2 separate regions of the Homo sapiens genome follow, and region 1 is linked to region 2. The links come from fine-mapping of genetic effects on gene expression. A gene starts in region 2. The other region holds a variant in brackets. All regions are shown on one strand. Distances are between the middles of the regions. Region 1 overlaps SLC30A6 (solute carrier family 30 member 6). Region 2 holds the start of NLRC4 (NLR family CARD domain containing 4).

The links. PIP is the estimated chance that this variant, and not a neighbour inherited with it, causes the effect. A credible set is the group of variants that fine-mapping cannot tell apart.
Region 1: its variant is the best candidate, but not a certain one, in a credible set for the expression of NLRC4 in fibroblasts (GTEx, PIP 0.72).

The regions. Positions count from the first base shown.
Region 1 is chr2:32,220,971-32,225,349 of GRCh38, reverse strand. SLC30A6 (solute carrier family 30 member 6) reads right to left here. Exons shown (of 14, transcript NM_017964.5): 14 at 971-4,379. It overlaps NLRC4 (NLR family CARD domain containing 4), which reads left to right. Exons shown (of 9, transcript NM_001199138.2): 9 at 585-897. The coding sequence ends at 877. Among named protein-coding and RNA genes, the nearest start is that of NLRC4, 42 kb to the left of the region's middle. The variant G/A (reference allele first, on the strand shown) is at 2,701.
Region 2 is chr2:32,262,795-32,267,193 of GRCh38, reverse strand. It overlaps NLRC4 (NLR family CARD domain containing 4), which reads left to right and starts at 2,308. Exons shown (of 9, transcript NM_001199138.2): 1 at 2,308-2,456.

The DNA.
Region 1 (4,379 bases), 42 kb after region 2:
CCTACCCTATGTAGGAAATACTTTAGGTGCCCTATTCTGTAAGGAATGGAGGAACTTCCTGAAGAGGCTCGGGAGGGTTATACATAAACAGGTAAACAAAAACACCCAAATCTTTAGATACTGAAGGAGGCTCACTTACTCAAGTTTACAGTTAGGAACATACCCATAGAAACAACAGTTAGGTGGTGTTTACTTTTTCAGAAGAGGAAACGACTTAATATTGCCAAAGATTGACTCCAGTTTTGAAAACAAGTACTGAATATTTAATTAAAGCAACCTTCCATTTCCTAGGAGTAAGGAAAAGGGGAAAAAAAAGTAATTCATTTACATATTGTTGCTACCTCACTACGAATCACTATTTATCAGATTCCCTTATACTCTAGGAAAATATAATAGACCATATTCACAATCACTGCCCTAGCTATAGAGAATTATATTAATAATTTCTTTCTGAGGCAAAGCACTGGTTCAAACATGGCCATTTCAGAGTGAAAAAAAAGTATGTAAAATAAATGTAGAACCTATTTCTCTTTTTTTTTAAAAAAAATTTTTCTTCCAACTAATATACTTATTTCTTTACCCAGGTGCATTTTTTGGAAAGAACCCTCTGAAAAACTTCCAGCAGTTGAATTTGGCGGGAAATCGTGTGAGCAGTGATGGATGGCTTGCCTTCATGGGTGTATTTGAGAATCTTAAGCAATTAGTGTTTTTTGACTTTAGTACTAAAGAATTTCTACCTGATCCAGCATTAGTCAGAAAACTTAGCCAAGTGTTATCCAAGTTAACTTTTCTGCAAGAAGCTAGGCTTGTTGGGTGGCAATTTGATGATGATGATCTCAGTGTTATTACAGGTGCTTTTAAACTAGTAACTGCTTAAATAAAGTGTACTCGAAGCCAGTAAGTGCTCTGGGACCTCATTATTTTAAGCCTGGTAGTTAAAAAAAATCTTGCAAAAGGATGCCAAAGAAGATAAGGACGTGGAAAGAAGTTTAATTTGATGATTAAAAACATGCAACAGTTTTGTGTCTTAGCTCTCCTACTAGGATTATCGGCGCCTTGAAGGAATTCTCATTCATCTTTGTGTTACCTTTGGTCTGGGTCACACCAACTGGTATACTGAATGCATATTAACTTAGTATAGTGCCTGGCATGTAAGAGATTCTCAACAATATTCTCAATAAATATTCGCTGAATATGAGATAAATTATTAATAGCTACTGAATAAAGAAAGATTATTTAAAACCAGAGAGGAAACTCCATATATGTTCTTTAATCCAAACAGTTTAATTCAAGCAATCTGGAATATAAAAAGCACTTTCTGATATTAGAAGGAGATCAGACTCCCAAAAAAGATCAGCATTCTTTAGTCAAGCAAAACTTGGAAGTTTACAAACAGCTAAATCAGAAGCTTGAAATTCAGGTCCTCTCCAGTACCTGCTACATTATATGTAATTCCAAACATGACTTCAGAGATTAAAGAAGAAAGGGAAGATGTTTCCCATTCTTTTGTACCCTATATAAACTAAGGGTACCCTGCCCTAATCTTTTTTCCAACACTTCCCCAAATAACCCTTCCTTACAAAGAAAGAAGTCTAAGAGAACTCTCTCATCTAAATATATTTAAGTAGAGGCAAGCCTGAAAAAAACACAAAAACCTAAATGGTGTTAGGCTGTGGTTCACCTATTCTCATGGCACCTCAAATTAATGGCTTGGGTGTTGGTGTAGGTAACGCTTGGCCTGTATGTTGAGGTAGTCACTAGATAAAATTCTGGGCACAACATCCGTTTAGCAATTGGGCATACATTCTACAGATTTAGCCATAACGTTTTGAAGCTGATTATTTTACAGATCAACTAATTAATTCCTCTCCCTAACTTTACAGATGAGAAAGCTCAGATGATTTGCCCATGGGTTATAAAACTACTTCCTTACACAGTGGCAGCATCAGAACTGGAATTCAGATCTCTTGCCTCCTAGGCAGTGTTTTTCCTATTATAATATGGTGACTTCGTAAAGCAGGGTTAATTACATTCCACAAAGCTTACATCCTAATCACAAACAATGGGACAAATATTTAAATTGAACTTCTTTCTCTGTCTAGCTTCAAGTGATTCTGTGGCAAGATTTACTAGTAAGGCTGCTGCCTATAGGCCTATGCTGGGCAAGTTCCTTATTTTCATATCCAGAAGTTAGTCAGAGCTTGGCAAATAAGACTTCTCTATATAATAATGCCTGGCCCAATGTCCCCTGTAACATCTTACATGCAGGACGTAGGGCCAATTCTTTCATAACCCACAGGCAACTGTGAGTGTCCTTTCTCAAATAGTGAAGGTAGGTATTAAAGCACCTTTGGTGGGACAGATGCACAGGTGTTGCCTCTGAATTGGTGTTGAGGAAGTAGGCATAAAACCTCACACAGAACTGTGTTTGGTACCTGAACACTTTAAAATCCTATGGGGATGGGGAAGACATGCATGGGGTGGCAGCACATACCTCTTAACCATAACTCAGGACACGGCAGTTCAGATTTCATGCATGACCCTAATTCATATTTAGTTGAGATCAATGGAGGAAGAAGAATCATCCTGTAATAGTAGACCAATAACAGATACAGTAATAGTTGGAAAACATAAGATAAAGGCCAAGGAACAGGTTGCCTTATTACATTTTACGAAGTATCATTTTCCCCAGTAGTCAAG[G/A]TAGTGTAGGCTGTATTTCTTTAGCAGGTCACATGCCTGAACAGGGGTTGCAGATGCCAAAGACAATGACCAACTCCTCACTAAGAAAAAGGTATTTAGGACATGGTCACTTATTACCACAGATGACAATTCTGCTTGACAGAGATGGCTTCTTGGATGTTTTTAATCCACAGTGAAGAAAAAGGATTTCAAAGTGCTGCTCCTATTTGAAAGTGAATGAGTTGACTGAAGAAACTGTTGCAAAAGAAAAACAAAAATCTTCTCTAGATAGCTGGCTGATGGCTGGGAAAGTCATAAATCTCCAGGAGCATTGGATTCCAGGAAAGTTAAGTCCATTCTCAAAATCCCATTTTAAAACTGTTATGGAATGCATAATAAAATAAAACAATAAAAAACCCTCCTAGGTCATGTGTGACTGCTGCTTGTTATACTTTTTGGAAGTAATACTAGCCATGTTAGAAAGTCCTTAAACTCTGCATTTGGAAAACAACTAAAAAATAACATAATCTATGTAATTCTCACATTTCATCACAGTTAACAATTTCCCATTTTTGACAAAGCAAAACAAAAAGAAACTGCCCACTGCAGACCTAACAATGCTGTATTCTATAATCTAAGGTCCATTATGCTTTGGTAAAATTATATATGCTCAAATTCTTTGTGCAACTTGAAAAGACATCAAATTCCATATTATGTATGGAACTCCATGTGTTTTGGTAATATATCTGATATATTTTGTTAATAAAATAAGAAATTAAAAAGCCAATGAATGAAAATGTGTCAGGAAAGATAAATTCATTATGTCAGTATTTGATTAAATGTAACATAGAAAATTGGGATTCTTTCACTGCATATCACCAAAAGTTGGGTAGTCACTTAATCAAAATAAAACACTGAGAACCATGGACTATTTACAAATGTACTAAAATTTTTAAAGGAGAGAAACTTTAACAAAAATCTTGATAATTAAAAATTCAAATTGTGCTAGATAGAATGTATTCCAAAATTTCTGCTAAAAATTTTTGCTTTTAGTTTGTAAGACATAATTCAGGAGAACCTCAAAGAAAAATTTAGCAATTAAGTTTGGAAAAGCTATAAAAGAGACTTTTACTTTTTGAACAGACATTTTTCCCTTTCCCAAAATGTGTATTATTCAAGAAGCATATTTATAAATTTCATTAAAGAAAATATCGGCCAGGTGCGGTGGCTCACACCTAATCCCAGCACTTTGGGAGGCTAAGGTGGGTGGATCATGAGGTCAGGAGTTCAAGACCAGCCTGGCCAACATGGTGAAATCCCCCGTCTTTACTAAAAATACAAAAATTAGCTGGGCGTGGTGGCAGGTGCCTGTAATCCCAGCTACTCGGGAGGCTGAGGCAGGAGAATCATTTGAACTCAGGAGGCAGAGGTTGCAGTGAGCTGAGATCATGCCACTGCATTCCAGCCTGGGCGACAGAGTGAGACTCCATCTCAAAAAACAAAACAAAACAAAAACTAAGGAAGCCTTAATAAAGTACAGCCTTAAGTTAATAATAATGTATTGGCCGGGCACAGTGGCAGAGCAAGACTCCGTCTCGGAAAAAAAAAGAAATATCGTATCTTAGTAATGTGACAGATCTACTCCATCAAGTGGCTCTTATAAAGGTAAGGTCACATCACACTGCAGTCAACTACAAAAC
Region 2 (4,399 bases):
TGTACTTGAATGAATATGGATATAATTTTGCTTATTTTACTATGAAATACTACTGTATTAGTCTACTGTGGTTGCTGTAACAAAATATCATAAACTGGGTGGTTTAAAACAACAGAAATTTATTCTTTCACAGTTCTGAGGACCAGTCCAACATCAGTATCATGGGGCTGAAATCAGGGTGTCAGCAGGGCCACACTCCTGGGAGCTTTAGGGGAGAATCCATTTATGCCTCTTCCAGCTGCAGGTGGCTGCTGGCATCTTTTGGCTCGTAGCCGTATTACTCGAATCTCTGCATTCATGGTCTTACTGACTTCTCCTGTCAGTTTCAAATCTCCCTCTGGCTCTCTGTAATAAGGGACCATTATTAAGGGCCCACCTGGATCATCCAGAATTCTCTCCCCATCTTCAGAGCCTTAAATGGAACATATCTGGAAAGACACAATATTTACAGTTCCCAGGGATTAGGATTTGGGATATTTGGGTAGCCACTATTCAGCCTACTACAACCATATTTCTACATTTTCCCTTTTTATTCTATATTACATCATTTATTAGTACAAAAGTAATAGGTGTTTGCTATGAAGAATTAGAATATACAGGTTGGGCATGGTGGCTCCCGCCTGTAATCCCATTACTTTAGGAGGACAACACAGGTGGATCACTGGAGACCAAGAGCTCAAGACCAGCTTGGCCAACATAGCAAAACCCTGTCTCTACTAAAAATACAAAAAATTAGCCATGGTGGTGGCCCACACCTGAAATCCCAGCTACTTGAGAGGCTGAGGCACAAGAATTGCTTGAGCCTGGGAGGCAGAGGTTGCAGTGAGCCAAGATTGAGCCACTGCACTCCACTCCAGCCTGGGCAACAGAACGAGACTCTGTCTCAAATAAATAAATAAATAAATAAATAAACAAATAAAATAAAAAATAAATAAGTTGATAAATAAAATTAGAATATACAGATAAGCCAAAGACAGAAATTTAAAATTGCTTATAATTGTATTCCCCAGCAATAAGCATCATTACTATTTTGGTGGCTGTCTTTGCAGTTTTTTCTCTTGAACATATGTTTATATATAGGTTTCATTACAATTTAAAAATCTAGCTGATAGTGTAGCCCTCAATCTCACTTCAGAGAAACCCACCTCACAAGTTGGGAAACACTGACACTGATGCCCCCTTAGAAAACCCAGGATGTAGACATTTATTTGCCGGGAAACTTTGGTATCCCTCTATGGCAGATAGGCTACTGTCAGAATGCTCTTTTTGAAATAAGAAGTTATGTAACACAAAGACATGTTCCTGGTAGTTTATGCAAAGACAGAGGAAAGAGTATGCAAGAATGTCATCCTCAAGGGAAGTGCAGAGAGATTTCTTCAGTCCTCAGCTGAGTATAAGCTGGCCTCCTGGAGTCTGTGAACACAAACGTCCAATGTGAGTGTGCCTGTGCAAGCCCCTGGCTGTTTATACTCCGGAGGGTGTCCCCGTGCGTCATCGGTGGAGTGGACCAAAACTGGTGATCTGTTTGCCCTGTGTGACCTTGCCCAGAACCCTGCTGACTGAGAGAACACATCTGCTGGAAGTCCTCTGGGATTCAAGGTACAGGGGTAAGCATGACCTTGAATGCAGTAGCAATGTGCTTTAGCCAACTAAGCTGGCTCATTTCATTTACCGCTCTATCTCCCATGGTTAAGCATTAAAAATACATGTTGTGGCTGGGCATGGTGGCTCACGCCTGTAATCCCAGCACTTTGGGAGGCTGAGGCTGGCAGATTGCCTGAGGTCAGGAGTTCGAGACCAGCCTGGCCAACATGGTGAAATTCTGTCTCTACTAAAAATACAAAAATTAGCCGGGCATGGTGGTGCACGCCTGTAGTCTTAGCTACTGGGAGGACTGAGGCGGGAGGAACGCTTGAACCCGGGAGGCAGAGGTTGCAGTGAGCTGAGATTGTGCCACTGCCCTCCAGCTTGGGTGACAGAACAAGACTCTGTCTCAAAAAAAAGAAAAAAGAAAGAAAAAGAAAAAAAATATATGTTGGATGTTCAGAAGACTTTGTTTCATTTTAAGGTATAGAATAAGTAACTCAACAGCAATGAATTCATATGTTGTGAACAAACAGGAAACAAATGAGTAATTCCTTTCTTGACGGAATTTCTAGCTCTTGCATCTTTTACTCTGAAGTTCTACTTCTTCCCCGGCTACTCCTGCCTACACCCATCTTCCCTTTCTGAACTGGTAGTACTTGTGTCCAAACCACTCTTACTGTGCTTTGAAAAAAAAAAAAGGAACTGCTCAGCAGTTCCCCTCTCTGTACACTGTCCTCTCACAGAACAAGAAGGTATCTGGTCTACAAGAACTCGAGGCCTCACTGAAACGGAAAGCAAATACAAAGAAACTTTATTTTAAAAACATGTCTTGGTCTCCCAAGAAGAGGGCAATTGGATTGCTCAGCCAGGTACTGTGGGTAGAGAGAATGGGATTTTTAAGGTCTGGGGCCCAAATATTAAAATCTGGGTTTACATTCATTTAAAGCTTGTGTCTGGGATGTACAAAAGCCTTAACATTGACGAGTGTGATTTGCATGCCTGGCTGGATTTGCCTGCCGAGAAACCTTTAGGGGTGGTTAATCGGGTCTGCTGGGGCTTCATCAGGTTCAAGGGGTACATGTACCCCTTGGACTACTGTGAGATGGAAAGGACTTTGGAAACACTTTTTGGCATTACAGAAAGGAAACTCACTCTTTTTTTTTTTTTTTTTTTGAGACAGAGTCTTGCTCTGTCACCCAGGCTGGACTGCAGTGGCGTGATCTCGGCTCACTGCAACCTCTGCCTCCTGGGTTCAAGCAATTCTCCTGCCTCAGCCTCCCAAGTAGCTGGGATTACAGGCACCCGGCACCGCGCCCCAGCTAATTTTTGTATTTTTAGTAGAGACAGGGTTTCACCATGTTGGCCAGACTGGTCTCAACTCCTGACCTCGTGATCTGCCCACCTCAGCCTCCCAAAGTGCTGGGATTACAGGTGTGAGCCAACGTGCCCGGCCAGGAAACTCACTCTTGTTGCTAAGACTGTTGTTAGAATCACAGATGATCAAAGCTGAAAGGAACGAGGTGGACTACTTAGTCCATCCAATCTCCCAAGTTACTGATGAGAAACCTGATATTTGGAGACAGAAGTGAAGGAAATCACCCTTTACGGGACACCTATTTCGTGATAGGGTCTTTATGTACATTATCTCAGTAGATCCTTGCAGCCTGGCTTTGAGAGGTGGAAAATGTGGTAGAGAGGAGTTAAATGTCCTGCCCTACATCACACTGCTAATTGTCTACAAAACTAGGATAGAACCTGGTCAGCACACTTCTTAACTGTTCACACACTTTTATAATATTAGTCGTATTAATGTGTTTAAAATACCATAGACTGGGTGGCTTAAACAACAGAAATTTATATTCCCACAGTTCTGGAGGCTGCAAGTCCAAGACCAAGGTGTCAGCAGGGTTGGCTTCTCCCCACGCCTCCCTCCTTGGCCTTTTCTCTCTGTATGCACATTCCTGGTATCTCCCTTTGTGTGTCCCGATTTCCTCTTCTCATAACAGCCTCATTTGAGCTTAATGACCTCTTTAAAGGCTCTGTCTGCAAATACAGTCACATTCTGAGGTTCAGGGCTTCAACATATGGATTTGGGGGAAGCCCAGTTCAGCACATAACACTAATATTAACATGTGAGATTGCTGAAGCCTATTAAAGACCTAAGAACATTCTAGTCTAGAGCCTTTTTACTAGAAAGGAAGACAGATAATACCCACTGACCATCTTTGTCACAACTACTTTCATGTTTAATCTTCACAATAGTCCAGGGAGGTGAATATTATGCATGATTTGGAAAGCAAGATTCGGAAAGGCTAAGTAACATGTCTAGGGATACTTACCTCATAAGGTGCAGAGTGAGGATTTGAATTCAGATCTGCAATGCCAAAGCCCACACACATTTTCCATTTCTGTGTGCTTCCTGTCTGCTCCTAATTATATGTACTCTTTCCCTTATTTTATCTGTGAGGTGTGGGAATGACCCCATAGACGTGGGTTATATGGGTCCAGAGAAACTTCAGTTCTCTGAGGAGCTCATGTAACCTTTTTTAAGAAAATGCCAATTTTAGAATTAGTACTAAATATTATTTTCCAGCTGGGCATGGTGGCTTATGCCTGTAATCCCAGCACTTTGGGAGGCCGAGGCAGGCAGATTGCCTATATATATATAATATATATTATTATATTATTTTCCAATGTACAAATGTGGGGGAAGGACTTCTTCCACCCAATTCAGTTATTCACTGGACAGCTTGCGGGGAGGGGTTGCAGGGCCATAGCTACATTCCAAGAGAGTACACTGGTCTCAGTCCTA